Linked DNA regions of Homo sapiens. The protein of the gene in region 2 purifies or fractionates together with the protein of the main gene of each other region. This does not show direct contact. Each region holds a gene or a part of one and is shown on either strand. Other genes may lie near its edges. The genes, in order: RAB5A and KCNN3.

Region 1 (4,021 bases), on a different chromosome or scaffold from region 2:
TTAGCGGATGTCTCCATGAATAATAAACTATTGTCATCTGCATAGGACTGTGCTTCCTGTTTACAGAACAAAAAATGAGATATATGAGATATATCTCTTGGAAATACACTACACCTGCTTTAAACTTGTTATAGAAAAGGAGACTTTCTTATTACTACAACCTGATTCCTATAATCATCTATAATCAACAACTATATAATAAGCTACAACAGAGGTAAGAGCACTGTGCAAGATAATTTTATAATGGACTATTTCCTTTTTTGTCTGAAATTCTTGCATTATCCCACCTTGATTAATCTTTTCTTACATTAAATCTGCTTTCAAATACTGAGTTCCAGAGATGGGGGAGAATTATCTTATTCTAAATAAAACTCTCTTTGATCTCAACGGCAATTTTTATTTGCACTTACTGTCTGCAATGAAGACAAAGGGAAACCAAATATCTAACACTGGCTTCAAACACTAAATGACAACCTCATATTTAATTTTCAATGACTTCTACAGCAATATTATAATCTTGAATATATCATAAATCATTCCTTTGAAAATTACATCACTGCCCTACATTTTTGTCATGCTTTTACAGTTTACATATATTATTACTTTTGATCCTCATAGCTGTTGTGAGGGGTAACCAATGATCTTTCCCATTGGACAAAGAAACAACTGAGGTTCCTCTGAACTGTTATGTGACAGGGCCACTTCTGACTGTAATTTAAGTGTTTTCTCTGCCACTCTTGTGCTGGGAAGGCAACAATTTTGGAAAGAGTAATGGATACTACATCTCACATCGTTGTCCTAAGAATTAAATAAAATTACAAATGTAACATGCCCAACTTAATACCTAATGATGCAAGAATACATGGATTCCATCTACGTCATCAAAAAAGAAAACTATTTCATCACTGATATATACAGAACAGCCACAACCGCCCTTCTAGTAGAGAAGCCAAAGAGCAAGAGAACAGGCACAGTTTTAAAAGGTCTAAGTATGCCGGGCGTGGTGGCTCACGCCTGTAATCCTAGCACTTTTGGAGGCGGAGGCGGGTGGATCACAAGGTCAGGAGATCGAGACCACCCTGGCTAACACAGTGAAACCCTGTCTCTACTGAAAACACACAAAAAATTAGCCAGGAGTGGTGGTGGGCGCCTGTAGTCCCAGCTACTTGGGAGGCTGAGGCAGCAGAATGGCGTAAGCCCAGGAGGTGGAGCTTGCAGTGAGCTTGAGATTGCGCCACTGCACTCCAGCCTGGGCAACTGAGCAAGACTCCATCTTAAAAAAAAAAAAAAAAGTCTAAATAGAGGACTTGCTTTGTTTTTAAGTGATTGCACTTGCCTATTTTGCAGCAGCAAACATTCTGAATTAGCAATCGTAATACAAAACTGGATTTTCTCAGCCTTAAAAAAATTTTTTTTAATTATTAGTTTTTAGCTTATTATTTTCCAACTCTGGATACAGATTGGCAGAACCTTTATGTTTGAATGCCCCTTTAAGAACAACCACATAAGTGTTTGCGTATGTACATATGTGGGGTACACACATGTGCTGATACATATTTGCACATGAGTAGAAGAGGGTTAGGACATAAAGTATGTGTGGGATGGAGGAATTAGGGCAGGATACAATCACTTTCTGCACTGTGAACAATGACTACTTTTACTGTTTTTCTTTTTTATTTTGAGACGGAGTTTTGCTCTTGTTGCCCAGGCTGGAGTGCAATAGTGTGATCTTGGCTCACCACAACCTCCGCCTCCTGGGTTCAAGAGATTCTCCTGCCTCAGCCTCCCAAGTAGCTGGGATTACAGGCATGCACTACCATCTCCAGCTAATTTTGTATTTTTAGTAGAGACAGGGTTTCTCCAAGTTGGTTAGGTTGGTCTTGAACTCCCAACCTCAGGTGATCCACCCACCTCGGCCTCCCAAAGTGCTGGGATTACAGGCGTGAGCCACTGAACCCGGCCTTTATTGTTTAAGTCTACAAAATCTTTGGGTCAGTTTATATATTACAATAATCTATTTAAAAATTTAGGTTTATCAGAAACATTTTATTATATGTAGTACTTTATATTTGTTTTAAAAATCAGTATTTTCTATTACTTGCATGGTTTTGACATTATAACTAATTCAAGTGTTGACATGAAAGAAAAACATACAGGAAAAAAGTGCCTTTCAAATGAGAGTTAAATTTAACATACCTGGAAATCTACTGCTCTTTTATTTGCTAGGTCGGCCTTGTTTCCCGATAAAGCTATTACAATGTTAGGACTTGCTTGCCTCTGAAGTTCTTTAACCCAATTTTTTGCTCTTGCAAAGGACTCCTGTTAAACAAAGAAACAGCCATTGAGCACAGGCTCAAAAAATGGTTACCAAGCATCTTTGTGATACAAGGCTTTAAAAGACTGTCCCAAGTGACTGTGGGAAAGAAATTATTAGGACTATTGTATTATGAGACATTTTCGTTTTTTTTTAAAACCAGATTTTCTAATTCACAAAAGCTTCAGCAGAAAGGTCATGACTATCAGAAAAAGATTTTCCAAAACATTTAATCAAAATTCTGAACACCAAAAGTGGGTACTCAAATTAGTTTTACTGTGGAATGCATCCATACTTACCTCATTTGTGATATCATATACAACTATGGCTGCTTGTGCTCCTCTGTAGTACATTGGTGCTAGGCTATGGTATCGTTCTTGACCAGCTGTATCCCATATTTCAAACTTTACTGTAGTGTCATCAAGACATACAGTTTGGGTTAGAAAAGCAGCTGAAAGAAAAGGACTACAATAAGTCAATCATTTTTCTCCAAATGTTTTCATAATATAGAAAACACCTGCTTGTATACATCTATCAAAATGTCACACTGTACCCCGTAAGTATGTACAACTATTATGTGTCAGTTAAAAGTAATAAATGAGGGGGGAAAAAAAAAGAAAACACCTAGAAACTTGACAGATTGCATACCCACAGCTGATAATAGCTTTAAATACTGGCAAACCTGTGCTTCTAAGCTATTTACATATATGCTTACATATAGGGCCTTTGTAGTGAAATCACAGATTGAAAAACTTCTGCATCTTAAAAAAGCTTGTTATAATACTAAATAAACTTAAGACTACATTTCTTTTCCTTCTTCTTTTTTTTTTTTTTTTTGATACAAGAGTCTCAGACTAGAGTGCAGGGGCGTGATCTCAGCTCACTGCAACCTCCGCCTCCCGGGTTCAAGCAATTCTCCTGCCTCAGCCTCCTGAGTAGCTGGGACTACAGGCATGCACCACCACACGTGGCTAATTTTTGTAGTTTTAGTAGAGATGGGGTTTCACCATGTTGGCCAGGCTGGTCTCGAACTCCTGATCTCAGGTGATCCGCCCACCTTGGCCTCCCAAAGTGCTGGGATGACAGGCGTAAGCCACCAAGCCCAGCGAAGACTGCATTTCAAAATTGCTCTACAATTAAAGAAATGCACTGATAGTCTTAAAAAATGAAGTTGGGGGAAACCCAGTGTGCCTAAAAGTACCATCTATACTGCTGACACCATGTCCTGTTCCATTTTACTAGTTTTTATTGGCGCACACTGGCAATTTAGTCCCAGTCAGTTACCACCAAATTAGTATTTCTTGTTATATTATCTTTTTTTTTCTTTTTCTGAGACACAGTCTTGCTCTATCTCCCAGGCTGGAGTGCCTCCCAAAAGTGCTGAGATTATAGGCGTGAGCCACCGTACCAGGCCTCTTGCTATATTATTTTTTAAAACATTGTGACACTTTAATTGTGGTAGTCATTATTACCTTAACCTAGATTTAATTTGTTCAGTTGATTCAATATTTGCTCCTACCTTTCATTCCCTGCCATAAGAATTTTTTGGATCTGTACTTTCCCTGATTCTAATTTTAACACTAGGAAAGTAGCATTATAGGCCAGGCGTGGTGGCTCATGCCTGTAATCCCAGCACTCTGGGAGGCTGAGGAAGGCAAATCACGAGGTCAGGAGATCAAGACCATCCTGGCCAACATGGTGAAACCC
Region 2 (4,032 bases):
GAAAATGAATTCAGCTCTGGTCCCATCCTTTGGAACCCCCTCTGCACACAGTGGGGGCTTAATAAATACTTGATGATGATGGTTCTGAACCTGGGAAGCCAGCAGCTGTTCCTAGTTCTGACTCTCAGAGCCCCATGGGGCAAATCAGGCAGGGAATGACCATGGGGGAATCTTCAGTCTTCCTGCCAGATCCCCCTGTGACTACACACCCAGCTGTTAGGGAAGGGGCTGGAGCCATGGTCCACTTCACACACCCTGCTTTGGAGAGGCCAGTTCTTCCTCAGCAGCTTCTCTTTTGTTTTCCCCAACTAACATTTGAACAATATTTATTGAACAACCACTTTGTACTGAATATCATAGTGGAAATGCATCCTGGGAGAAAGTATCTGATCTGTGGGGTCAGACTGACTAAGTTCAAATCCCAGCATCTTTAATTACAAGCGGGATGACATCTGACAAGTTACATATCTATGTTTGAGCGTTTGAGTGTTTTTTCCACTTTCCTTTCTCTCCTTCTTCTCCTTCTCCTTCTTCTTCTTCTTCTTCCAATTTTCATCTGTAAAAGGAGAGTGATGACATCATTTTTGTGGGGTTGATGTGAGGGTTGGAAATAACAGAGAGGACCCTGAACACGAGGCGTAGGCACTCAGTCAATGGTAGGTGAGTTTATCCACCGGGTGTTAGAAGGTGTGGATCCCCCCTGCTTCTGTGACCTTGACGTTGTTACTCAACACCTCTAAGCATCAGGCTTTGTAAATGAGACCATACTGCCCACCTCCTTGGGTGTTTGGAGACTGTATCCGGATAATATATGTGAAACAACCTATCGTAAACCCTGGTGGTTAATAAATGTTTGCCTTCCCCTCCGTCTGCCCCCTCATCAGGGTGCACACCTCCCCTCCTTCGGAGGCCCTCTGTCCCTCCTCCCCATCGCCCAGCGTGAGCGAACATCCCTTATCGCCGTGGGCTTAAGGGTTGTGGCCATACCTGTCAGAGGAAAGAGGACAGCGGCTCAGCTCCGGGGTGGGGGAGCAAAAACTACAGTTCCCAGTCCTCGCTGCGCCGCCACTGGGGCCGGAGCCCAGGACGCCAGGCCCCTCCTCTGGGGAGGAGCCTATGCGGGGGGCGGAGCTAGGAGGAGGTTGGAGAGTTAAGCCAAGCCAATGAGACCAGCTGCTAATAAGTGGGCTTGGCTTACAATGTAACAGTGGCAGGAGGAGGCGAGCGAAGCTATTGAGCCAGCGAGGAGTGAAGCTGAGCCTGGCCTCACACGCTCCTAGAGGACCACCTCCTGAGAGAGTTCTTTCACCCCCTCTTCTTTCTCCAAGCTCCCCTCCTGCTCTCCCTCCCTGCCCAATACAATGCATTCTTGAGTGGCAGCGTCTGGACTCCAGGCAGCCCCAGAGAACCGAAGCAAGCCAAAGAGAGGACTGGAGCCAAGATACTGGTGGGGGAGATTGGATGCCTGGCTTTCTTTGAGGACATCTTTGGAGCGAGGGTGGCTTTGGGGTGGGGGCTTGTGCTGCAGGGAATACAGCCAGGCCCCAAGATGGACACTTCTGGGCACTTCCATGACTCGGGGGTGGGGGACTTGGATGAAGACCCCAAGTGCCCCTGTCCATCCTCTGGGGATGAGCAGCAGCAGCAGCAGCAGCAGCAACAGCAGCAGCAGCCACCACCGCCAGCGCCACCAGCAGCCCCCCAGCAGCCCCTGGGACCCTCGCTGCAGCCTCAGCCTCCGCAGCTTCAGCAGCAGCAGCAGCAGCAGCAGCAGCAGCAGCAGCAGCAGCCACCGCATCCCCTGTCTCAGCTCGCCCAACTCCAGAGCCAGCCCGTCCACCCTGGCCTGCTGCACTCCTCTCCCACCGCTTTCAGGGCCCCCCCTTCGTCCAACTCCACCGCCATCCTCCACCCTTCCTCCAGGCAAGGCAGCCAGCTCAATCTCAATGACCACTTGCTTGGCCACTCTCCAAGTTCCACAGCTACAAGTGGGCCTGGCGGAGGCAGCCGGCACCGACAGGCCAGCCCCCTGGTGCACCGGCGGGACAGCAACCCCTTCACGGAGATCGCCATGAGCTCCTGCAAGTATAGCGGTGGGGTCATGAAGCCCCTCAGCCGCCTCAGCGCCTCCCGGAGGAACCTCATCGAGGCCGAGACTGAGGGCCAACCCCTCCAGCTTTTCAGCCCTAGCAACCCCCCGGAGATCGTCATCTCCTCCCGGGAGGACAACCATGCCCACCAGACCCTGCTCCATCACCCTAATGCCACCCACAACCACCAGCATGCCGGCACCACCGCCAGCAGCACCACCTTCCCCAAAGCCAACAAGCGGAAAAACCAAAACATTGGCTATAAGCTGGGACACAGGAGGGCCCTGTTTGAAAAGAGAAAGCGACTGAGTGACTATGCTCTGATTTTTGGGATGTTTGGAATTGTTGTTATGGTGATAGAGACCGAGCTCTCTTGGGGTTTGTACTCAAAGGTAGGGGCTGTGGTTTCTCTTTATACCTTGAACAAAAGGAATATGTAGGTAGCAAGAGAGGGATTGAGAGAGGGGGATTGTGAGAGAGAGAGATTGAGAGAGAGAGAGAGAGAGAGAGAGAGAGAGAGAGATTGAGAGATTGGGAGGGAGACTGGGAGAGAGAGGTGGTGGTGGTGGTGAGAGGCGCTTGCTCAGTTATATTCAACACTCTAACTTCCCGTGGTTTTCCTTCTTGATCCCGGGAGAATTCATTCCTAGCTTCCTCTGGGGGGTAGGGGACATCCCCACACACTGTGTCTAATTTGCAGACTCTCTGTTAGGGAGGATTCAATAATCCCTTCTGAGAAATCGCTTTTCCTCCTGGCTCACTCGTACTAAAGCATAACCCAGCAGCTTAACGCACCAATTAATTACACTCCGCCTTCATGTGTTTGCCAGTTCCTGCGACTTCCCCTTCTTTCCTCCCCTCCCTGCTCCACTCCATTTTCCTGAGGATAAAAAAGAAATAAATGTCTGGGTGGGGGGTGGGGATTCCGTACCATTGCCCAAGTCCCTTCTCTCCCTGTCTTCTCCATCTCTTCCCAAGTTTCTGTTTCCCTCCTCTTCTCAGAGAGTCTCGGGCAAAATAGAAAACCATCCATGACCTGGGTCTCCTGAGGGCATGGGGTAAAAATATAGGTGGAGGAAATCAGTGGTCCTTTCCCTCAGGAGAGAGGACTCAGAATAAACCTGCTGCTGCTTCGTAAACATCTCCTGATAAAAATGGCTACAGGTGTTACCTGGGCAGAGCAGCTGGGCGCCGCCTTGGAATCAGCTGGGGGAGCACCTCTCCTTGGGACGGGATGACAGGGCTTCCCAGGCGGTCCCCACAAGCCCGCGCCCCAGCTCAGCCCCAGTTCTCCCCTCCCACCTCAACTCCTCCTTGGGATAAATAAAGATGAGTGTGTGTGTGAGTGCGCGCCCGGATGGAGAACAGCAGGCACTGGCTTTAGCGGGGAGCTGGCCCCACTGCTCCAGCCTCTCAGTCCAGCCCCAAGACGGAGGAGGGGGTTTCCCTCCCAGAGGGAGTGGAGATGGAGGAAGGTGGGTTTCTGCCGATGCTCTGCTTGCCGGGGAGCTCTCCTGCTGTGGGCTGGAAGGCTTGGAGACCTGGGAATCGGTGGACAAGTGGCTCCACGATACCCCCACCCCCAATTTGTTGGTGTGTGTGTGTGTATGTGCGTAATGTTTGTACGTATGCATGCGCCTGCTTGTTGCTTGGGTTTTTCTATTTATTTGTCATTTGGGGCAGGGGGTGGCTTGGTGGGGGGGTGGCTGGGCGGGCTGGCCATCGGGTAGCTGGGAGGGGTTCAGCTGTTGGAGGTTTCAAATAGAGCTTGTTTCAGGCAGGGCACAGCTGCTGCGAGACTGTCACATTCCTTATTGAAATCCAGCCGCAAAAACCTAGGAGGTGCTGATCGGATTTCCCCCATTCCCAGCATCTCACTTTAATCGGTGATGGGCAGACTTTCCCGCCCTGGAAACGGGTGGGGCAGACCTGTCAGACGACC

The links.
Region 1: the proteins of KCNN3 (region 2) and RAB5A purify together in Homo sapiens (affinity purification with western blotting, with the first as the bait; one study listed by BioGRID). This does not show direct contact.

Annotation. Positions count from the first base shown.
Region 1 is NC_000003.12:19,974,345-19,978,365, reverse strand, and holds part of RAB5A (ras-related protein Rab-5A), read right to left. Parts: intron 2,766-4,021; coding exon 2,614-2,765; intron 2,320-2,613; coding exon 2,197-2,319; intron 57-2,196; coding exon 1-56. UniProt on the Homo sapiens protein: The small GTPases Rab are key regulators of intracellular membrane trafficking, from the formation of transport vesicles to their fusion with membranes.
Region 2 is NC_000001.11:154,867,482-154,871,513, reverse strand, and holds the start of KCNN3 (small conductance calcium-activated potassium channel protein 3), read left to right. Parts: upstream 1-1,232; 5' UTR 1,233-1,549; coding exon 1,550-2,482; intron 2,483-3,443; exon of another isoform or gene 3,444-3,565; intron 3,566-4,032. UniProt on the Homo sapiens protein: Small conductance calcium-activated potassium channel that mediates the voltage-independent transmembrane transfer of potassium across the cell membrane through a constitutive interaction with calmodulin which binds the intracellular calcium allowing its opening.